Linked DNA regions of Homo sapiens: all the other regions are reported to be linked to region 2. Evidence: microRNA targets listed by miRTarBase, many of them from high-throughput screens and not tested one by one. Region 2 holds a microRNA gene; each other region holds the end of a gene's coding sequence.
The links. Region 2 holds the annotated microRNA hsa-miR-4446-3p (CAGGGCUGGCAGUGACAUGGGU, at 1,994-2,015, opposite strand). A microRNA usually pairs through its seed, bases 2 to 8, with sites in the 3' UTR of a target mRNA and lowers its output. Matches are read on the target gene's strand: a 7mer-m8 pairs with bases 2 to 8, a 7mer-A1 pairs with bases 2 to 7 and ends in A, and an 8mer does both.

Region 1 (4,060 bases), not on the chromosome of region 2:
TAAGCTCCTGGGTGGTGCCCATGCTGTCTGTCCCTGAACTGCAGCTGGGCAGTGCCGGGATACGTTCTCACTTGTTTTTCTGAGTCTCAGCTTCCTCATCTGTGAAGTGGCAATTAGAAGCCCTTGTAGGGTTGCAGTGAGAATTGAGAAAGCTGTGATTTGAAGTGCCAGTGCCATGCCTGGCATACAGAAGGTGACCAGGGGGTGGTTCTCTCCTCTCTGAGGAGCGGTCAGGGTAGTATGGGGTGGAGGGTTTGAGGGTGGAGGAGCCTGGCAGCCATGGCCTCACCTGGCACACCTCCTTGTTCCCACAGAAACACCTGGCTGGGCTGGGCCTGACTGAGGCCATTGACAAGAACAAGGCCGACTTGTCACGCATGTCAGGCAAGAAGGACCTGTACCTGGCCAGCGTGTTCCACGCCACCGCCTTTGAGTTGGACACAGATGGCAACCCCTTTGACCAGGACATCTACGGGCGCGAGGAGCTGCGCAGCCCCAAGCTGTTCTACGCCGACCACCCCTTCATCTTCCTAGTGCGGGACACCCAAAGCGGCTCCCTGCTATTCATTGGGCGCCTGGTCCGGCCTAAGGGTGACAAGATGCGAGACGAGTTATAGGGCCTCAGGGTGCACACAGGATGGCAGGAGGCATCCAAAGGCTCCTGAGACACATGGGTGCTATTGGGGTTGGGGGGGAGGTGAGGTACCAGCCTTGGATACTCCATGGGGTGGGGGTGGAAAAACAGACCGGGGTTCCCGTGTGCCTGAGCGGACCTTCCCAGCTAGAATTCACTCCACTTGGACATGGGCCCCAGATACCATGATGCTGAGCCCGGAAACTCCACATCCTGTGGGACCTGGGCCATAGTCATTCTGCCTGCCCTGAAAGTCCCAGATCAAGCCTGCCTCAATCAGTATTCATATTTATAGCCAGGTACCTTCTCACCTGTGAGACCAAATTGAGCTAGGGGGGTCAGCCAGCCCTCTTCTGACACTAAAACACCTCAGCTGCCTCCCCAGCTCTATCCCAACCTCTCCCAACTATAAAACTAGGTGCTGCAGCCCCTGGGACCAGGCACCCCCAGAATGACCTGGCCGCAGTGAGGCGGATTGAGAAGGAGCTCCCAGGAGGGGCTTCTGGGCAGACTCTGGTCAAGAAGCATCGTGTCTGGCGTTGTGGGGATGAACTTTTTGTTTTGTTTCTTCCTTTTTTAGTTCTTCAAAGATAGGGAGGGAAGGGGGAACATGAGCCTTTGTTGCTATCAATCCAAGAACTTATTTGTACATTTTTTTTTTCAATAAAACTTTTCCAATGACATTTTGTTGGAGCGTGGAAGAAGATTGGATCAGGAGATTCTTACACCATTCTTCCCAGGGGACAAGGTCTCCTGTTAAGGCAGACTCGCTACTGATGGCTCATATCAGGCCCTGGAATGCTGGCAGATCGCTGGCAGATCACTGTGCAGACAGCGCCAAGTGGCAGGTGCATTCCGTGCTGACCCGGGAAATGGTTCTGGCTCTGGCAGCCCTGGAGAAGTAGCAGCTGCAGGACCTGAATGAGAGCACTGGACCTGGAGCCAGTCTTCAGCCTCTTCGCCTTTCTTTCTTTACCCTTTTTTTAAGATGTGAATCTTGCTATATTGCCCAGGCTGGACTCAAACTCCTGGGTTCCAGCGAACCTCCTTCCTCAGCCTCCTGAGTAGCTGGGACTACAGGCAGGGCTATGGGCATGAGCCACTATGCCCAGCTCCCCTAGCCTTTCCTTGCACGCTGACCTCATGCTACATCCAGGGCTACAGGTACAAACTCAGGCACACATTTAGTAAGTTGCCTGGCTTTGGGCTGGGCTTTGGAAGGAGATTGTGGGGATCCTTGCCCTTAGGTGGCCCGAAGTGTTGGATTTGTAGCAGGGGAGGAGGAGGCACCCAACACGGTCCTTTTTGACACAGTCCTCCGGTTGGATGCCTCATGGTCCTTAGGGCTCCTGACACCGTACCTTAGGGAGAGAGAGGGATGCACGGAACAGAGCCAGTGGCCAGGGAGGCAGAGGAGCAGAGGATATTGGGCTGGAGGCCCATTTCTGCTGCCTGCTGGCCTTTTAACCTAGGACAGGTCATTTTTCTCTCTGGGCACGTCCAGCTTTCCTCTGCCAAAGATTGTGACCTGGGGGTTGTTGGTTCAGGAAGGGACCCCTTACCTGGCTGAGCAATCCAGCAGTAGCCACCAAGATGTACATGGGTCTGCAGAAGGGCCAGCTGATTCACTCCCATCATTGCCACGACAGAGTTTCAGCAAGACTGCTCAGAGTCCCAGGGCCATCCTGTGCTTCGGCTCAATCATTCAGATCTCTATCCTCAAGGGGCTTTGTCTAGAGGTGGAGACTTAGGGATAGGGTACTCAGTGCTCACTGTGTTCCAGGCACCTGGATCATTCTGTTCCAGGTGTGCCACGCTTGTCCCCCTGCCTCAGGGACTTTGCACTAGCTGTCCTTTCTGCCTGGCAGGCGGTTCTTGTAGATGTTTGCAGGGTTGCTTTTTGTCATCCAGGATTCAGCGTAAACGTCTGCTCAGAGAGGCCTTCCCTGACCACCCTACACAAGCAGTCCCTCTCCCACCTCAGTTTCTCTACCATGATTTCTCACTTTACTGACTCCTTAGCACTATGAAATTACCCACTTAAGACTTCCCTGCCTGCCTCCCCTCTTAGAATGGAAGCTCCATGAAGAGAGGGTCCATGGCTGTTTGTCTATTGCAGCAAATCCTGCACCTAGCTTTAGCATCATGCACATATCGAGGAAGGCTCCCAGGAGGAGGTGATATGGGGGCTGCTTTAAAGGGTGAGTAGGCATTTCTGGATCAGAATAATGCTTTGAGTGCAACCAGCTGGTACGCCTTTGTGTTTTGCTCTTCCTATGTGCCAAATACTTAATATGTACAATTTTATCCAAGCTTCCTAACAGCTTGGCTAGTTAGGTAGGGATTGTCCCCATCTTACAGGTGAGATAACAGGCTGAGCAGTTAAGTGAGCTGCCTGAGGCCCTACAGTCAGTGGGGGCCGAGCTGGGACTAGATCCTAGTCGGTTGGGTAGTTGCTTCGCCACATAGGAAGGGCAGGAGAGGCCCCTAACACAGTGCCTGGAACCCAGCACTGAGCACAGATTCTAGTAATGAAGGCATGTTAACTTGCATACGATCTGTATCCATCTCTCTTAATCCTTGCAATAGCCCCGTTAGGTGGGAAGTCATCCTAACTTTACAAGGTGTAGCTCAGAGAAGGCAGAGACTGGGCTGGAACCCAGGCCTCCTGGCCCTGAAGTTCAGCCTGTGACAGCTCCCCCACCAAGTGGGAATGGGCAGTAAAATAAGCCAGGCCCGGGTGTGGGGCCACCGAGAGGACCCAAAGGGGGTCTTGAGGCCACGCTCCTCCATCCTGACTCAGGTGGGGAGGGTGGTAAGAGGTCTGTGCTGTTGCATCTCAAACACCCGTCCGTGAGGACTGGAGTTGCTGGTGTGTGAGTGGCAGTGCAGGTGGCAGAGGTGGGTGAGTTAGGGGTGGGGTGGGGTCTAGAGGTTGGTCCAGCCAGTGTTGCTGCCCCCCAGTGCCCCATCACTGCCCTGTGTGGAGCTTTCCTGCTGCCTGGAGGCCATTGGAGGGATTACCCTGTTATTCTCACCCTGGTGCTTGTTAAAGTCTTGGGAGATAATAAGCCTGTTGGATTGTGCGGGTCCCAGATGTGGATGCGGATTAGCCTTCTCCTGAGTGCCTACTGTGTGCCTGGCACTGCCATGTATGATTTCATTTACTTTTCAGACTTCCCTCCAGAGTAGCTATTACTGCTCCATGTTATGGACAAGAAAACTGGGGCTCAGAGAGGGGAAGTGACCAGCTCAAGGCCACCCAGCAGGACAGTGACAGAGCTTGGCTCACATGGGAACCCAGGTTTCCTGGCTGTAGAGGAAGGAGAAGTTACTGACGTGTGTGAGCTCCATGCTCCACAGTTTGCAGGGGGCGGTCACCCATCTTTTCCCCAGTCCCTGCAGCACGGGGCTTGTTGTCCTGAC
Region 2 (4,065 bases):
GGCTGGTTCAGTAATGGCTGTATCCAGGGAAGGATTGGGTTGGCCATTTGGTTCTTAAATCTACAACCGATTAGGCCTGCCAAGCTCTTGCATTTGAGAAAGTAACCTCCTCTTCTGTTGTACCCCAGTTCCTGGTGGCAACTCAAGGGGTCCCAGAGGCCTGTTGGGGAGGCTTCATTATTTTTCTCAGCTGGTAACTGAATTTCTGTAGAGGCTCTTTAACAATGATGTGAAATGTGGGGTTTCTCTCTGATAAAGCCAGTGGAGGAAATGGTTTTAGAGCACAGAGCCTTTCTTAGTACCTCTCAGATTCTCACAGATGCCCTGTCTTTGGTATTAAGGATAATTAGACAATACAGGGTCCAGTCATTCATAGTACAGTAAAAAAGTCCCTTCAAGTCCCCTGGAGCAGCTCTTTGCCAACAGTATTTCCATCTCACCCAGGCTCCAGGGTCTAATCTTCTTCTTCATCCCATGAAGTATGAAATACATTTTTTTGCTTTTTATTATAGTTGGAGCTAACATGGAGATTTTCACATACAGCTTAATTAAATCACTTCAGGCATATCAAAGAAAAACAAATGCAGAGTAGCGCACAGATTTTCTGAGTGCATCCTTCCTAACTCCAACAGAGCTGCCACCAATTTGGCAACCTGTAGGGACCTGATTCCATTTCTTCCACTTCAGTCACGTCTAAGGTGAAAGCCTTAGGCTAAGTTCCACAGATATCTAGCTCCACAATGATGTGGGCAGAGACCGTATTAAGTCTAGTGGGATCCTCTTCCCCTTTAAGAAGCTGCTTCTAGCATTTTCTCTGGATATAAGCACCCAAGGCATTTCCTGTAACTCTGAGCTCCATCGAACTTCCTGTGCCCCATGGTCATGCTGATCCTGGCCTTGGGAGAGAAAGACATTTCTGTATCCTTGTTTCTTCCCTGAATGTCTGTCACTAGCTTCCAGATATGGTCCTTACTTGCCTCTGTCTCTTGCTCCTGGTTGATTTCTCTATGCTCTGTTTGAGATGCCTAAAAAAGTCACTGGTTCTTCCCTTGGGCAGTGCTTGTCTTCTGCTCTTGGTTTAAGCATCTAGGTCTTGACTCACCAGTGGTCATGACATTGGGGGTGATGCCATCATTCCCTGTGGCCTCTCTACCTTACAAAGGTTCCTTATTTTCTTCCTATTTCAAGACTTTTGTGTGGTGAATATTCCTATTCCCTACTTCTTACCTAAGCTGGTGTGTTATTTAGGTGTCTTCATGTGTTTAGGTCCATGGTTCTCAAACAGGGGGATGTGGGGAAAGAGTTTTGCCCCCAAAAAGACATTTGGCAATGTCTGGAGGCTTTTTTTTTTTTTGAGACACGGTCTTGCTCTGTCACCTAAGTTGGAGTGCAGTGGTGCGATCTCAGCTCACTGCAGCCCCAACATCCTGGGCTCAAGCGATCCTCCCATAGCAGCCTCCGAAGTAGCTGGAGCACAGGTGCACACCACCACGCCCACCTAATTTTGTTTATTTTTTGTTTTTATGAAGACGAAGTCTTACTATGTTGCCTAGGCTGGTCTCGAACTCCTAGGCCCAAACAATCCTCCAACCTCGGCCTCCCCAAATGCTGGGATTACAGGCATGAGCAACTGCACCAAGCCTGGAGGCATTTTTAGTTGTCCCAAGGAGGGGCAACTCCTAGAATCTAGTGCACGGAAGTGAAGGATGCTATTAAACATCCTATAAGATACAGAATAGCCCCCAACAACAAAGAATTATCTGGCCTATGATGTCAATAATATTGAGTTTGAGAAACTCTGGTCTTAGAGAAGAGGACCTAATCTTAATTCTGAAAGTAGGTTTATCTGATGTGTAGGTAAATCTGTTCTTTGCAGTGACTGGTTTAACAATAAGTGTATGATTCACTCTAGGCCAATGAAACACAAGAAGTTGCTGAGGGCTTCTTAAAAGGTCCTTCCCTCTGGTGCTGCCAGGTGAAGGTGTGAGCCTTGACCCATGTCACTGCCAGCCCTGGGAGTAAATTGAAGCCAAGGGAATGGCAGGGAAATGGACCAGAGCCACTGGACTCATCAATCCTGAAGTACATCTTTTGGCTCTACTTCCAGAGCTAGGAGTCTCTTTCTTGATTAAGCAGGTTTGAGATTTTTTTTTTCTTGTTGCTGTGGTTACCTACAGCCACATGAATCTCAATGATGCATCTTTACTCTTTTTGGTCACTCATTTGTTTCCGCTTACCATCAGAAGGGTACCTCCAGCTCTTAGCTAATTTTCAGAGCCTCCCTGAACCTGGACAATGATCTGGCTCAAGTCCCAGCTTTGTCCACTTATGCTTCAATGTTCAACAGACCCTTCTGAATGCAGAATTCCTTCAATAAATATTATTATAATAAAAAGACTTCACTCATACTATAAAAAATAACAGACTAACCATTCAGAGGCTACCCAATGGGATTCAATCGATTGGATGTAGGCCTAAGTTCAACTAGGCCTAAACTAATCACAAAACTTGGAGGCACAAAACTTTTTTCCTGTAGGAAAAAAGATGACATCCAGAGAGCAGACAAATTCATTTAAACATCTGACGACTAAAAGGGAGAGGAGCATTTAGCACTTTAAAGCCACGAGAGCAGGTGTTCTTTTATAGTCTTTTATATTGACAGCTGAATGTTTATAAAACAAAGTGCTTGGGTGGCTGGAAAAACAGGCATGCTGACATTAAGGAAGACAAACATTAAAAAGAAAAAAGCAAACTCTCCAGCAAAGGGAGCAATGATCCTGCTGGAGGGGGGTAGGGGGTGAGTTAAAGTCTTTCTAAGATTCTGTGGCCTCATTTAAGTGTGGAAAACACACACCTAAACATCTGCTATGTATGACTTAAAAACCAAGTTCCACTTCATATTCCTCTTTAACCAAATTCTTGCTCTATGCCAAATAACCTATGAGCACTGAGTTTAGGTTTTTCAAAAATGAGGACATTTAAATTTTTAATTTTGTTAAAAAGATCAGGTCATTGAATTCTTTTGTTCAAACTCTCAGAGTGGAGGAAAAGGCATAGTACAATTGCTGGATAGTCAATTACTCTGGATTCCCCCAAGTTATTATACTCTTTATTATACTTGCTAGGGTCAAGTATTTCAGTTTTCTAGACACTTAAGAAAGCCTCCATCTTAGTTTGGGAAAAAGTAAACCATGTATCAGAGTTGGCACAATACATTCTTACTGTTGTTCACAAATCAGCTTTGGGATAGGACAGGTATGAACAATTATGTCCTAGAAAAGGTGAAACTTTTAAAAAAGATGAATGGCTGACCAATGATCTGTGATTACAAGGGACACTCCTAGTAAAGGTTTTTAGTGTGAGCTCCACGTCTCAATAATTATCAACTACAGCAGCAGTCTCCAACATTTTTGGCACCAATATTTAGGGACTGGTTTCATGAAAGACAATTTTTCCACAGACGGGGGTGGGGATGGGTTATGGCATTAGATTCTCATAAGGAGCACGCAACCCAGATCCCTCGCATGCACAGTTCACAATAGGGTTTGCGGTCCTATGAGAATCTAATGCTGCCACTGATCTGAGCGGAGGTGGAGTTCAGGTGGTAATACTTGCTCACCTGCCACTCATCTCCTGCTGTGCAGCCCAGCTCCTAACAGGCCACGGATCAGTACCAGTCCACGGCCTAGGGCTTGGGACCTCTTGAACTATAGAATTGGTTTTCACTAGCTTTGCTTTCCAACTGCAGGCTAGACTACTCTGCGGGATAGGAATCAAGGGAGGGTTTGTAAATTGCAAAAGGCAGAGAGGTAAAAGAAGCATGAAATGGGATGTTGCCACACTATGCGACACCATTTTGAATTGAAACCAAGCATTGCTCTTACCATCATTGGACCCAAAGCTTCCATCAATGGATTTTCTCTGAAACCTGCAAACAAGCACATACACATGCTCCTAAGACAGTGAAAACCTCAGCATTTTACATTTGTTCCTTATAGATTTTGTTGCGGATTTGTCTACTAGGATCTCTTCAAAACATGTCTTTGGGGCCAGGTGCGGTGGCAC
Region 3 (4,060 bases), not on the chromosome of region 2:
CAGAGAGGGGCAGGTTGGGTGGGTGCAGCAGGGGAAACTCCCAGGGCTCCTGACCCCGGCTCTCCACCTCCCCCTCGGAGGTCAGAGGCCTCTCCAAACCCCTCTCCGCAGGCCCAAGCCCTTCTCTCTCTGCAGAGGGCTGGCCACTGGGCCCCTGAGCCTGCCAGGAGCTGCCAGGGCCTCACCTTGCCTGAAGGCTGGATGTTGGGGTGTGGGAGTGTGCCAGAGCAGAGGGAGCTGAAGTGGGAAGGCCGTGTCTGCAGCCGATGTGGGGCTGGTATTCCAGGCCCTCAGGCCTCATCCCGAGGGTGTCACTTGGTCACGTGACTGACTCCTTGCACCTCAGTTTCCTCATCTATAAAATGGGGTTCGCCTGAGGATTCTTAAGGTTTCTCTAGGTCATGGTGTGTGGCCCAGAATAGCACCTGGTCAGTAAGATCTTTCAGCATTGCTGTTTGTTCCACAATCACTGGGTGGCCTCCTGGCACCAGGCCTGGCCCTGCGCCTTGGGGTACAAATACACCTTACCCCTATCCCCTGGTCTACATCCTCTGGGGACTCCAGTCCTAAGTGGAAGACAGATGAGCTCCTGCCTGAATTTTGGCGGCGGCTGCATGGCACTCTCTGCTGTGGATGTGGATGTGCATGTGTACTTTTTTTTTTTTTTTTTTTTTTTGAGAAGGAGTCTCGCTCTGTCGCCCAGGCTGGAGTGCAGTGGCGCGATCTCGGCTCACTGCAAGCTCCACCTCCTTAGTCCACGTCATTCTCCTGCCTCAGCCTCCCAAGTAGCTGGGACTACAGGTGCCCCCCACCACACCCGGCTAATTTTTTTTTGTACTTTTAGTAGAGACGGGGTTTCACCATGTTAGCCAGGATGGTCTCGATCTCCTGATCTCGTGATCCACCCGCCTTGGCCTCCCAAAGCGCTGGGATTACAGGCGTGAGTCACTGCGCCCGGCCAATGTGCACGTGTACTTAATCAGTCCCCCACAGCTGGACATGAAGGCTACTTCCATTGTCTCACGGCTATTGCTGTAACTCAATGGCTGCCCACAACCCTGCTATTTCCTTGGGCTCAGTTCCTAGAGGTGAGGTTGCTGGTTCAAAGGGTCTGCATGTTTTTGAGGCTCTGCCTTCCAGAAAGGTCTTGTATAGGCAGCTGGGGTGATGGGAGTTCAAAGTGCTCAAAGGTTCAAAGTACTTCGAAGCCTGAGAAGGGCCATGCGGCCCTGGAGAAGCAGCATGCGTGGGGCCCAAGGCCAGAAGGATCTGAGTATGGGACAGGTGGAAGAATGGTTGGGGGGCCATCGCTGGGCCTTGGCAGGGTGCCCCGGGCTGGGCACGGAGGATGCCTCTCCTAGGGCAAGTACTTACATGGACCCCAAGTTCCAGGGGAGGTGGCTCGGGGTGGACGTTGAGGAGGAGGACAGTGAGTAGCATGAGAAATTAGGCTTTAAAAAAAAATTTAGACAATGTTTTTTTCTGATTTCAAAGGCTTGTGTGCTCGTAAAACTTTTGAGAAATATAAAGGAGTAAAAAAGTCACCCATAATGGCACCACTCAGATAGGACCACTGTTAACATTTTGCTGTGTCTTCCAGGATTTTTTTATGCATTTATATATTTTATATATTTTTAAACAAAAATAGTATCATGCTATATACATTATTTTATAAGCTGCTTTTTCTCCCTATCACACAGTATGTCTTTCCTCATCAGTGCATATAAATCTGCCTTAATTCTTACACAGGCCGCATGGCATTCTCTGCTGTGGACGTGCATATGTATTGAATCAGTCCCCCACAGGTGGACACGAAGGTTATTCCCATTGTCTCGCAGCTCAATGTCTGCCTGCAACCCCGCTATTTCCTTGGGCTCAGTTCCTAGAGGTGAGGTCGCTGGCTCAAACGGTCTGCCTATTTTCGAGGCTCTGCCTTCCAGAAAAGTCATGCAGGCAGCTGACCCTCCCCACAGCCAGGGTGGTGAGGCAGGTGGGCTGGGGGTGGCATAAGCCTGGGCTGTAGTGCACTCTTATTCTCCCCGCTTCTCTCTCTCTCTCTAGGGCTGAACCCATCAGAACCACTGTCTTCCAGTACCCCGTGGGCTGGCCACCAGTTCAGGAGCTGCCTCCATCCCTGCGGGCACCCCCACCTGGGGGGTGGCCTCTGCAGCCCAGAGTCCAGTGGGGCTGAGCCCCTTGCCCCCGACTGACCCCCACGTGGTCACTTTTCTCATCAGTCACAATAGGAAGCCAAGCCCGGTTCCTGCTACGCCCCATGGAGGCTCCGAGACCATCTGCCCAGCCTCACTGAGGCTCAGGACACGGCCACACCAAGTGCAGCCCTCGTCCTGGGTCTGCACCGGGCAGCTCTCCCCTCACTCTCCTCCACCTGCCCCCCTGCTTCTTAAGAAGATGGGGGAGAAAACTTCCAAATGTTTATAAAGAAAGTCTGTCACCACAGTGGTCTGGCTGTGTTTCCCTACACTGGGTGCTCTGAGCTCTGTTCTCCAGCCCCTAGCAGAGGTCGGGCAAGGAGGGAATCAGATGAGATTTTCCCCAGGTGACCCACGCTCACTCCCTTCTCCCTTGGGACCAGCAGAGGTTCAGCACGGCCAGGCAGAGGGTGTGCCAGGGTGGCTGTGCCCGTTGCCTGGTAAGAAGTGGCTCTAGGCCCAAGGAGCCCAAGGGCTCCATCTGCCATCCCCGCCCTGGAAGAATCCACAGCCCCCATGTCTGCCCATGCTGAGCTGCTGCCCAAGTATTTGGGATGGCACAGCTGGGGCATGGGAGCGGGGTCTCCAACCTTGAGGGCGTAGAGAAGTGGGAGGACAGGAGGGCAGGCCCTGGGCTGAGAGAGTGGCCTGGCGCAGCCTCTTGGCACTGACAGTGTGGGGCTGTGCCAGTTTCTTGGCCCAGGAGGTAGTACAGGGGCCCTCCCAAAGTTCAGCCCTGGAGGAGCCCCCTGGCTGGAGGCTGCTCAGAGCCTTCAGGCCCCAGCTCTGCCTCCTTCCTCAGCTGGACTACAGTTCTAGGCTCTAGGCTGGGGTGGTGGACAATGTGGCCTTGGTAGCTGGGCCTCTGGTGGGAGGGCCAGAAGGTGGGGGGCTGCAGGGCCACCTCAGATGCCCATCCTCCACGAGCTTCTGCCTTTCCTGAAAATCCCTGTGGAAGGAAGAACTGAGGCCAAGTCTCGGGGCCCTGAGCCTCGGGTTCCTCACCTGTGAAATGGGCTGGCCCAGCAGGTACATGGAGAAAAGGGGGTCTGGGTTGGGGTCCAACGAGGGTCAGAGGAAGGGGCCCAAGGAGAAGACCAGGGGCCTCCTCAGGCTATGCCAGGCAGCAAGGCCCAGGACACCCTGGCTTCCCACCCTCCCCCAGGAGAAGGCTTTCTGTCCCTGCCTGTGCCCTGTGCCCTGGGCAGACCTCAGGGACCAGGGCTGGGTTGGCTGTGTGGCCCCAGATAGGCTGCTGTCTCAAGGCACAGGGTGCCCGCTCCTGCCCAAGGGACCACAGCAGCGACTGGGTCCTGGGGGTTCCTGTGCAAATCCCTCCTTAATTTCCCAGGAGCCCCTGGATGGTAGGAAGAGTGAGTGCTCCTTACAGGCCAGGGTGGGGACAGGGTGGGGCTGGGGACCATCCTCAGAGCCACCACCCGGCCCTCCACAGCCAGGCCACAGCTCCAGGTGAGGACCGTGGGTGGGTGGGGAGGGCTCGCTGGATACCCAGGCCCTGAAGTACACGCAGATGGCGGCCCAGGGAGCCGGCCAAGGGAGAGGTCTGCAGGCGGCGGTGGTGTGGGGCGGGCCACGGGCACCGCATGCGGTGGATGGGGCATCCAGGTGGCGTCTACTTCATGCCACTGCGCAGCACCTGGTTGGCCGCAATGAGCATGACACTGATGATGAAGGCGATGGCGAAGGCGCAGATGAGACTCTTGCGCACGCAAGTCTGGCGGATCTGCTGGTTGGAGCAGGCTGTGGCCGCCCGCCGGGAGCACCGGGGAGACAGAAGGGGACATCAAAGCGATGGAGTCAGGAGCCGCCTGCCCTTCGGCACATGG

Region 1: the mRNA of SERPINH1 is a reported target of hsa-miR-4446-3p. Seed matches in the 3' UTR shown: 7mer-m8 at 978-984.
Region 3: the mRNA of CABP7 is a reported target of hsa-miR-4446-3p. Seed matches in the 3' UTR shown: 7mer-m8 at 3,434-3,440 and 8mer at 2,059-2,066.

Annotation. Positions count from the first base shown.
Region 1 is chr11:75,571,467-75,575,526 of GRCh38, forward strand. SERPINH1 (serpin family H member 1) reads left to right here. Exons shown (of 5, transcript NM_001235.5): 5 at 315-1,317. The coding sequence ends at 617. Among named protein-coding and RNA genes, the nearest start is that of MAP6-AS1, 9.7 kb to the right of the region's middle.
Region 2 is chr3:113,592,868-113,596,932 of GRCh38, reverse strand. MIR4446 (microRNA 4446) reads right to left here and starts at 2,057; the gene lies at 1,991-2,057. SIDT1 (SID1 transmembrane family member 1) reads right to left here. Exons shown (of 25, transcript NM_017699.3): 10 at 3,885-3,928.
Region 3 is chr22:29,729,356-29,733,415 of GRCh38, reverse strand. It overlaps CABP7 (calcium binding protein 7), which reads right to left. Exons shown (of 5, transcript NM_182527.3): 5 at 1,583-3,974. The coding sequence ends at 3,847. ZMAT5 (zinc finger matrin-type 5) reads left to right here. Exons shown (of 6, transcript NM_001003692.2): 6 at 2,062-2,460. The coding sequence ends at 2,191. Among named protein-coding and RNA genes, the nearest start is that of CABP7, 11 kb to the right of the region's middle.